Homo sapiens: one gene and its partner. The main gene of each other region encodes a partner of the protein of the gene in region 2 in a complex. Each region holds a gene or a part of one and is shown on either strand. Other genes may lie near its edges. A codon is read from its position in the direction of its gene.

Region 1 (3,747 bases), on a different chromosome or scaffold from region 2:
CCTGCATCCCAGGGATGGGGATCTAGGACTCTGAGCCTGGCCACCTGCACAGGGCCCACAGGGTCCACACAGGCCCTACCCGGAGCCCCCAACTCACGGGTCCACACAGGCCCTACCCGGAGCCCCCAACTCACAGGTCCACACAGGCCCTGCCCAGAGCCCCCCACTTGGGTCCACACAGGCCGTGCCAGGAGCCCCCCACTCACGCTTCCATTCATCCAGTGTGCGGTCAACGTCGTCAAAGGAGTCATCATACTTCTGGACCTGGGGCTCATCTTCCGTGTCGTGCAGGGACTCGAAGTAGGGATGGGCCAGCGCCTCGCCTGCCGTCACCCGCTGCTCCGCGTCCAGCACCAGCATCTTCTCCAGGAGGTTCACAGCTGCGGGGGAAGGTGCATCAGGCCAGACCACGGGAGGCCCCACACTCCAGCACCCGGTGGCCCCCACACTAGCCAGCCGTACCCAGAGGGCTTGCATTGGTCAGGATAGAGGCAAAATCCTTCTTCTCCAATTCGGGGAGGCCCTTCATGTAGTTCTTGGCCTGTGTGGGAAGAAAGGGTGAGGGGCCAACACCAAGGCCCAGGTCCGCCCCCACCCCCACCCAGCTCCCCACTCACCCCTTACCTCATCGCTCTGCAGCCGCTGCACAAACTCAGCCGGAGGCGTCCCCGTCACCTTCATGATCTCCTTCAGCTGGTCCAGGTCTGCACCGAGGTCAGGAACACAGCTCGGGGGCCAGAGATCAGGGCCCCCACTGCCCCCACCTGGGCAGGAGCCATCCCCACCCGCCCCTGGTGCCGCCCTGCGGCTGGAGGATACGGTCGCTGCCCTTGAACAGCGTCTTGCCTGTGATCATCTCCGCCATGATGCAGCCCACAGACCAGATGTCCACTGAGATAGAAGCCCTGGTCAGCTCCGTGGGCAGGGGGACAGGATGAGACGGGGAGGGAGGAGACACCAACACAGCCCACCTGCCCGGCTCCCACCCCAGCTCAACAGCCTCCCTGGGAGCAGCCACCACAGGGCTGTCCGTGAAGAAGTGGAGAAGCAGATGGTGCAGCCTGAGAGGCCCAGATCTCTGGGCAGCTTCTCACCCGTCTGCGTGTAGCGCATCCAATTCAAGATGACCTCGGGAGCCCGGTACCACCGGGTCACCACGTACCCAGTCATCTCACTGTCTGCCTGCCTGGCCAGGCCGAAGTCCAGGATCTGTGGGAAGAATTGGGGAGGTGGGTTCTAGGGGACTCCCAAGGAGCGGACAGGCCACCCACGGTCCAGGAGACCCCGGGGGGTTGGACTTGAAGCTCCCAAGCTGGGGCCTCCTGACAACCTTCAAGGACTTGAGGCCACGCCCTCGGACCCCAAACTGCCCCGAGCTCCTCCCTCTGGCCAGTGCACCAAGCCCAGCAGCCCTCGGGACGGAGCAGGTGCCCTGGGTACGGCATGTTGTGTACCACTGCCTCTTGGGCTCACCCACCCACCAGCTCCTCAGCCACTGCCCAGAGCCTGGGACCTTGGCCCCCTGCCCAGGCCTGACAGGTGGATAGATGGGCAGATCCAGAGGGGGCCCCTGCCCCACCTCAGGGCCCCCTGCCAGGCAGCACACACCTTCAGCTCACAGTCTTCGTTCACAGCCAGGTTGCCGGGCTTCAGGTCCTGGGGGCAGAGGAAAGGTGGCCACTGTGCCCCACCCTCCCAAGCATGGGCACAGCCAAGAGCCTGGGTGGCACCTAAAGATGGGGCCACCGGACCTGGCCCCCTTGCTCTCTGCAGCCCTTCAAGGGCAGACCAAGGTACCTGGGCACCCAGGCAGGTTCCCACCAGGGGCTGTGCATAGGGCGTGGCTCAGCACCCAGACCCCATCACATCCTCACAGGTGGGACGTGGAGGCGGGGGGATTGCACTGGGGGAGGGCTGATGAGCGGCTTCTCCACCGGGACTCACTCTGTGGATGATGCCGGCAGCGTGGATATACTGCGGGGGGCAGAGGATTTGGCAGGCTTCAGCGCACCCTCTCAGAGCCACAGGGCCCTCCTCTGCCCAGCCCCGAGGCCCTGCCTGCCTCCCTGCAGCCTCCCCCGGGGCCCGTACCCTCAGCCCCTTCAGCATCTGGTACACGAGGAACTGGATCCGGTCCTCGCCTAGCTTCTCATGTTTCATGAGCTTGCCCAGGTCGGTGCCCATGAACGGCATCACCAGGTAACTGTGGGAGGGGCCGGAGCGCTGTCAGCGGACAGAGCCAGCCTCTGCATCCCAGAGACCCACCCAGCAGGCCCAGGCTCAGACCCGTCCCGGATCCAACAGGCACCCCCAGGAAGGTCACCCCTGCAGCACACATCCACACTGGCCTCGGTGTCCTCGCAGCCCCACCTTGCAGTGCCAGGCTCCATCCTCCCGCAACTGTTACTGCCAGCAGCGCTCACACCCCCCTCCCACCCTGAGGACTGTCAGGCAGGGAGGAGGCTGCCTTGGGGTTTTTGAACCCTCCGCTGAAGCGCCCTGCGTGCCAGGCTAGGGGCTGAGGCTCCATGGTAGAGGCAGCAGGACTCGAGTCTTCACAGGCAGGGGAGGGAGGCAGTCAGGTTTCAACTTCACAACTTTGTGCCAGAAATGAGGGAGGTGCCTGGGGGCGATGGGGGCGCGGCAAGGCATCTGGGTCAGAGGGGTCGGCTGGGCCGGTGGAGACAGACACAGGAGAATGGTATTTAGCACCTTCCCAGAGGCCACTGACTTGACCTCTGCAAGTCAGGCGGGAGGCGCCTGCTACCCTCTCCAGGCCTTCCTCGGCCTGGCCCTTCACTCTTGGCCGACAGGGTGTGAGTCCCAGGGTGGTCGGCTGCAGGGCAGGGGCAGGGTGGGTCCTCCCTACCGCTTCTCCCCCACCCGCTGGAAAAGGTCAGCAGCTCCAGTTACCGGCCACACACTTGGTGCCAGGGTCCCGAGCACGGGACCTTCCTGTTAACAAATGGTCAGGTCCAAGGTTCACACCTCCGGTGCTGGAGAGGGCCCAGGTGCCAGGCGTGGAGAGAGGCAGCAGCCCCAGCTCTGCCCAGCTGTGCCAGTGCCCGTGGGTCCCAGGACCATGTGGGGGAGGGCGTGGGGTGGACAGTGGTATGGGGAGGGGGTGGGCGGTGTGCATCCCCCACTCAGGCTGCAGGAAGAGAACCCCATTGCCAACCTAGAACCTGAAGCCAGTGCCCAGAGCTGCCCAACACCCCTCGTGCCCAGCGGCCAGCCCAGGTCGGCACTCACAAGTCCGTGAAGTCATCCAGGGTCTCATCAGGAGTGAATACGTCCAGCAGCCCGATCACCTGGGGGGGCCACATAGGGTTGAGAATGCAGCAGAGGACACGGGCTGGGGCACCCCCCAAGAGTGGCACAACCCTCTGGGCAGGAAACCCCCTCTGCAGCTGTCATTGTCATGCCCCACTGTCCAAAGGGCCTGGCTCTGCCCACTGGCAGTGTGGCCCAGCCCTGGCACACATACCCACTGGCAGTGTGGCCCAGCCCTGGCACACATACCCACAGAAAGGTTATTTTTGGACGGTGACAACCGGGATCTTCTGGGGGAGGGGCAACCCGGAGTCTGGGATGGCTCCGAACCATCCAAAGGGCTCCTGCCGCCTGACCCTTTCACCCCTCTTCACCCCAACCAAACAGATCCAGGCCCAGGGTGGGGACAGCGCTATGGAAAGAGGCCAGGCCTCTGCTGGTGAGGCCCAGGCGGACAGCACCGTGACCCACCAG
Region 2 (3,747 bases):
GAGAGATCTGGTGGCATGAACATTTATAGCAACAATTTAACTCAAGTCAGGAAGGTGAGCAAAGGCTCTGCAATCATGGAGCTGAGACCCACAGGATGAAGTAATCAGTGGGGAGGGGGAGAAGGTCCCAGGCTCTTGCAGTCCCTGCAGCAGGAAGGAGCACGGTGAGGTGAGGGCTCAAAGAGCATGAACATAGGGCCTGCAGGAGATGCTGAGAGATCAGCTTTGTCTTCATTTTGAGAAAAATAGGAGTGTATGGAAGACTCCCCCGTCTGTGGAGTAGAGAATCCACTGGAAGCAGGAGAGGGCATGTGCAGATCATGGCAGTGCTGACAGTGGACCAGCTGCTTTCAGAGAAGCATCATGCATAATTTTTCTTGTGTTCCCTGACACTTTATTTTCTACAAGAACCATGAATGCATTTGATAACCAGAGCAGGGGAGGGGACTCGGGGGAGCCAGTGGGGAAGACTGAGCTCAGAGGCCAACCTCCCCTCCCCAGGCCCAATGGTGGCTGGCGGTCAAAAAACAGCTGATGGAGCTGGTTGCTGCCTCCCTCACCGAGAACCTCTGGGCTAGCCCTTGAGCTGATGTGGCTGAGGGAGGTGACATGCATGGGCCAGGTCTCCAACCCCACTCCTACGCCAGGGGACCCTCATCAGCACAGCATTCAGGCAGCCATGGCCCCTGCACAGTCCTGGATGCTCCCTCTTGGAATATCCCTTCAGTCCTGAGAACCGGGACCTGTGGTCCTGGCTGAGGAGGGACCTTCACTCACCCACAGCGACTCTCAGCACTGAACACAGATCAAAGCACTTGTCTGGAGGGTCAGGGGTCTGACCACAAAGTGAGGGACCCCTTTTCTATGCCAAGTTTTGCCTTAGTTTTCCACATTAGCTCATTGACAACAGTCAACTTAAAGGGAATAGGTGCAATTATGATCCTCATTTTACAGGGTGGAAGTTGATTATACAATTTGGGTCATTATTGTAATGCCCAACTAAATCAGAGTTGAGAGGCCAGGGGAAAAATACTCAGGGCACATAACATTGCTCCAAAAATGTAATTCTCTGCAAGCGTGGCTGCTAAAACTGCCTGTTATAACCTAAAACCAGTTTTATTTAATAACTACTGAAACAAATTGCTGTGACCCTAAGACTAGTTTTATCTGCTACCATCATGCAACAATCAGAGCTTGCCAGCTCCCGAAGAGCTTCTCTAGTGCCGATGGACTTTTTTCAAAACAATACATAATATTTCTCATTCTAATAAAACTCCCAACATTCTCTTTGTTTTCCAAACCAAAGACCACCTAGTCTGTATAGATTTCCCAAATTATTATTCTTACTTCCCAAGCAAAATGTTTTAAATTTAGAGAAACATCTGTTTTTATATTTTATTTGACTTTGACAACAGATGATTTGTCTAGGCACAGACTTGGGTTCAAATGTTGGCTGCAGCCAGGCACAGTGGTTCACGCCTGTGATTCCAGCACTTTGAGAGGCTGAGGCAGGAAGATCAGTTGAGCCGAGGAATTCAAGACCAGCCTGGCAACATGGCGAGACCCTTTCTCTATATTTAAAAAACAAACAAACAAACAAAAACCAAAAAGACAAATCTCGGCTGCACTGCTTACAAACACTGTGCTCTTTGGTGGTTACTTCATCTCTCTGAGCCTCAGTTTTCTCACCCCCTCTGTAAAATGGGGCTGGAAGGAATCAGTCAGATTTTGAGGCTAAAATGCACTGTTTGTTCCCTATGGGGGCTCAGTAAAAAAAATTCACTTCACTCTACACTGCTTAAACATTTACTAAAAGCTTGTGTATCCTAACAGTAAATCATGGGACCTCAATTTTCCAGGACTATTCCAATTTCAAATCCTCTGTCCTAACTTTCCATATAAACCATCAAAATGTTTCAAAAATTCCACTCTCTCAGTATCCAAACACTTCTCAGGCCTCCTCTTGCACAAAGCAGTGGCACACACATTCTTTTTTCACACTACAGATCCCGTTCTTTGGTTCAGAAAACGCAGTCAGCACAGTCCTGCCGGTCCCCTAAAGGAAATGGGGTCAGTGCTCCACTGCAATTCAGACTGGGCTGTTTCCCGGCACATCTATGTAAAGGCAGCCAGGGGGAGGCCGGGCCACAATCAGAGCATCACCCACAGAGGGACATACACTGGGCAGAGGAGTTCAGCCCCCACCTACTTGTACCTGGGAGGCAGCCTGGCGACAGGGTTGCTGTGAAGATTAAATGAATTAAGTTACTATTTGGAGAGCACTCACAACAGTGTGTGGCAACCAATAAGTACAGATTAGTGCTGATAACTAAAACCAGAGGCATCCCTGCAGAAGTTACTCCTGCCTCAAAGACAACACAGTGGCATTGCTCCCATCCAGGTGAAAACAAGGAGAATAGGCACTTAGCCCTGGGCTAGGTGAGGCCTGGCCCATGTACAGAGATAAAGCAGACCCGAACCAGAGCAGGTGGGTTCTGCATTAGTGAACACCAAGAGGCTGGATTTGGCTGGGTGCGGTGGCTCACGCCTATATCTCCACACTTTGGGAGGCCAAGGCAGGAGGACTGTTTGAGCCCAGGAGTTCGAGACCAGCTTGGGCAACATAGTAAGACTTTGTCTCCACAAAAAATAAAAAATTAGCTGGGTGTGGTGGCACATGCCTGTAGTCCCAGGTGCGAGGTACAAGGAGGACTGCTTGAGCCATGATCGGGCCACTGCACTCCAGCCTGATGACAGAGTGAGACCTTGTCTCAAAAAACAAAAAAGACCAGGTTGGACTTGGAGAAGAATCACCACGCCTATGATCCACAAAGTCTCTTCATGCCTTTGCCCCTGCTGTTTTGCCTGCCCTAAATGCCATCTTGTTCCTAAGTTTGAGGCTTAATTCAAATTATGCCTTGAAGTTAGAACTAACTTCTCCCCATGGTTAGAACTACGCTCCACAGTGTCTCCTGATGCCCATCGGAATGAATGGCTGCATCCTCTGGTGTCTCTTGCACCTAGCTTATCCTTTTAAAGTACTTACAGGACCATGGACAGATGGATGGGGACGCACATACACATATACAAACTGTCTTTCCAAATCCACCATGAATCCTTCCAAGGCAGGGGTTCAGCGTTCACCTCTGTAGCCCTATGGCCTAATACATGGTAGAGACTCAATAAATGTCTCAATTTGCTGTTAAATCTGTGCTCACACCTGGTCTTGGAATAACAAGTTAACCTGGGGGCAGTGGGAAGCTTCAGGTGCACACACAAGCAGAAGCTCTGGAGATGCAACATTTCTGGGTCTTAGAACCCATTACCAAATCAGTTTTCAGCCAGGGGCTTACCAAGCACTTCTCAGGTCCTTCTCGGCCAGAGGAAAGAAGACATCTATAAGATCAGGCTCTGAGGTCACCTGGACCCAGCCAAGAGCAGTGTGGACACTGACCTGGTCTCCTCCTGTCTCTATTAGAGTTGGAATGAAGAGCTGATGCTGGGTAGGCTACTGCACCCCCACCAGCCCTTCCAGACCAGGGTATGTGCTGGGTGCCTTCAGCATTCCAGCTTCTACAACAGATCTTGGGAAAAGATAAAGAGGCATTGTCCCTGCTTTCCAGGACCGCAATGCTGGAAGGTGAGCTCTCCTGGGAAAAGATGTAGGGACCACAAATTGCTGGTCTTTTCTCAACCACCACAAACCCGGAGGGTTGGGGAAAGGCAGGGTGCCATGTCTTCTCACTC

The links. The genes of interacting proteins can lie anywhere in the genome.
Region 1: the proteins of PTPN3 (region 2) and MAPK12 are in contact, whole or in part, in a crystal structure (PDB 4QUM), measured with the Homo sapiens proteins. Residues at the interface, in NP_002820.3 of Homo sapiens: Arg655, Leu671, Asn674, Arg675, Tyr676, Lys677, Asp678, Val679, Arg751, His812, Ser843, Ala844, Gly845, Ile846, Gly847, Arg848, Met883, Gln886, Thr887; in NP_002960.2 of Homo sapiens: Met182 (codon at 1,170), Thr183 (codon at 1,167), Gly184 (codon at 1,164), Tyr185 (codon at 1,161), Val186 (codon at 1,158), Val187 (codon at 1,155), Arg189 (codon at 1,149).

What each region holds. Positions count from the first base shown.
Region 1 is NC_000022.11:50,254,991-50,258,737, forward strand, and holds part of MAPK12 (mitogen-activated protein kinase 12), read right to left. Parts: intron 3,312-3,747; coding exon 3,253-3,311; intron 2,204-3,252; coding exon 2,092-2,203; intron 1,975-2,091; coding exon 1,945-1,974; intron 1,657-1,944; coding exon 1,609-1,656; intron 1,210-1,608; coding exon 1,095-1,209; intron 892-1,094; coding exon 820-891; intron 705-819; coding exon 625-704; intron 542-624; coding exon 463-541; intron 381-462; coding exon 207-380; intron 1-206. UniProt on the Homo sapiens protein: Serine/threonine kinase which acts as an essential component of the MAP kinase signal transduction pathway.
Region 2 is NC_000009.12:109,491,664-109,495,410, forward strand, and holds part of PTPN3 (tyrosine-protein phosphatase non-receptor type 3), read right to left. Parts: intron 1-3,747.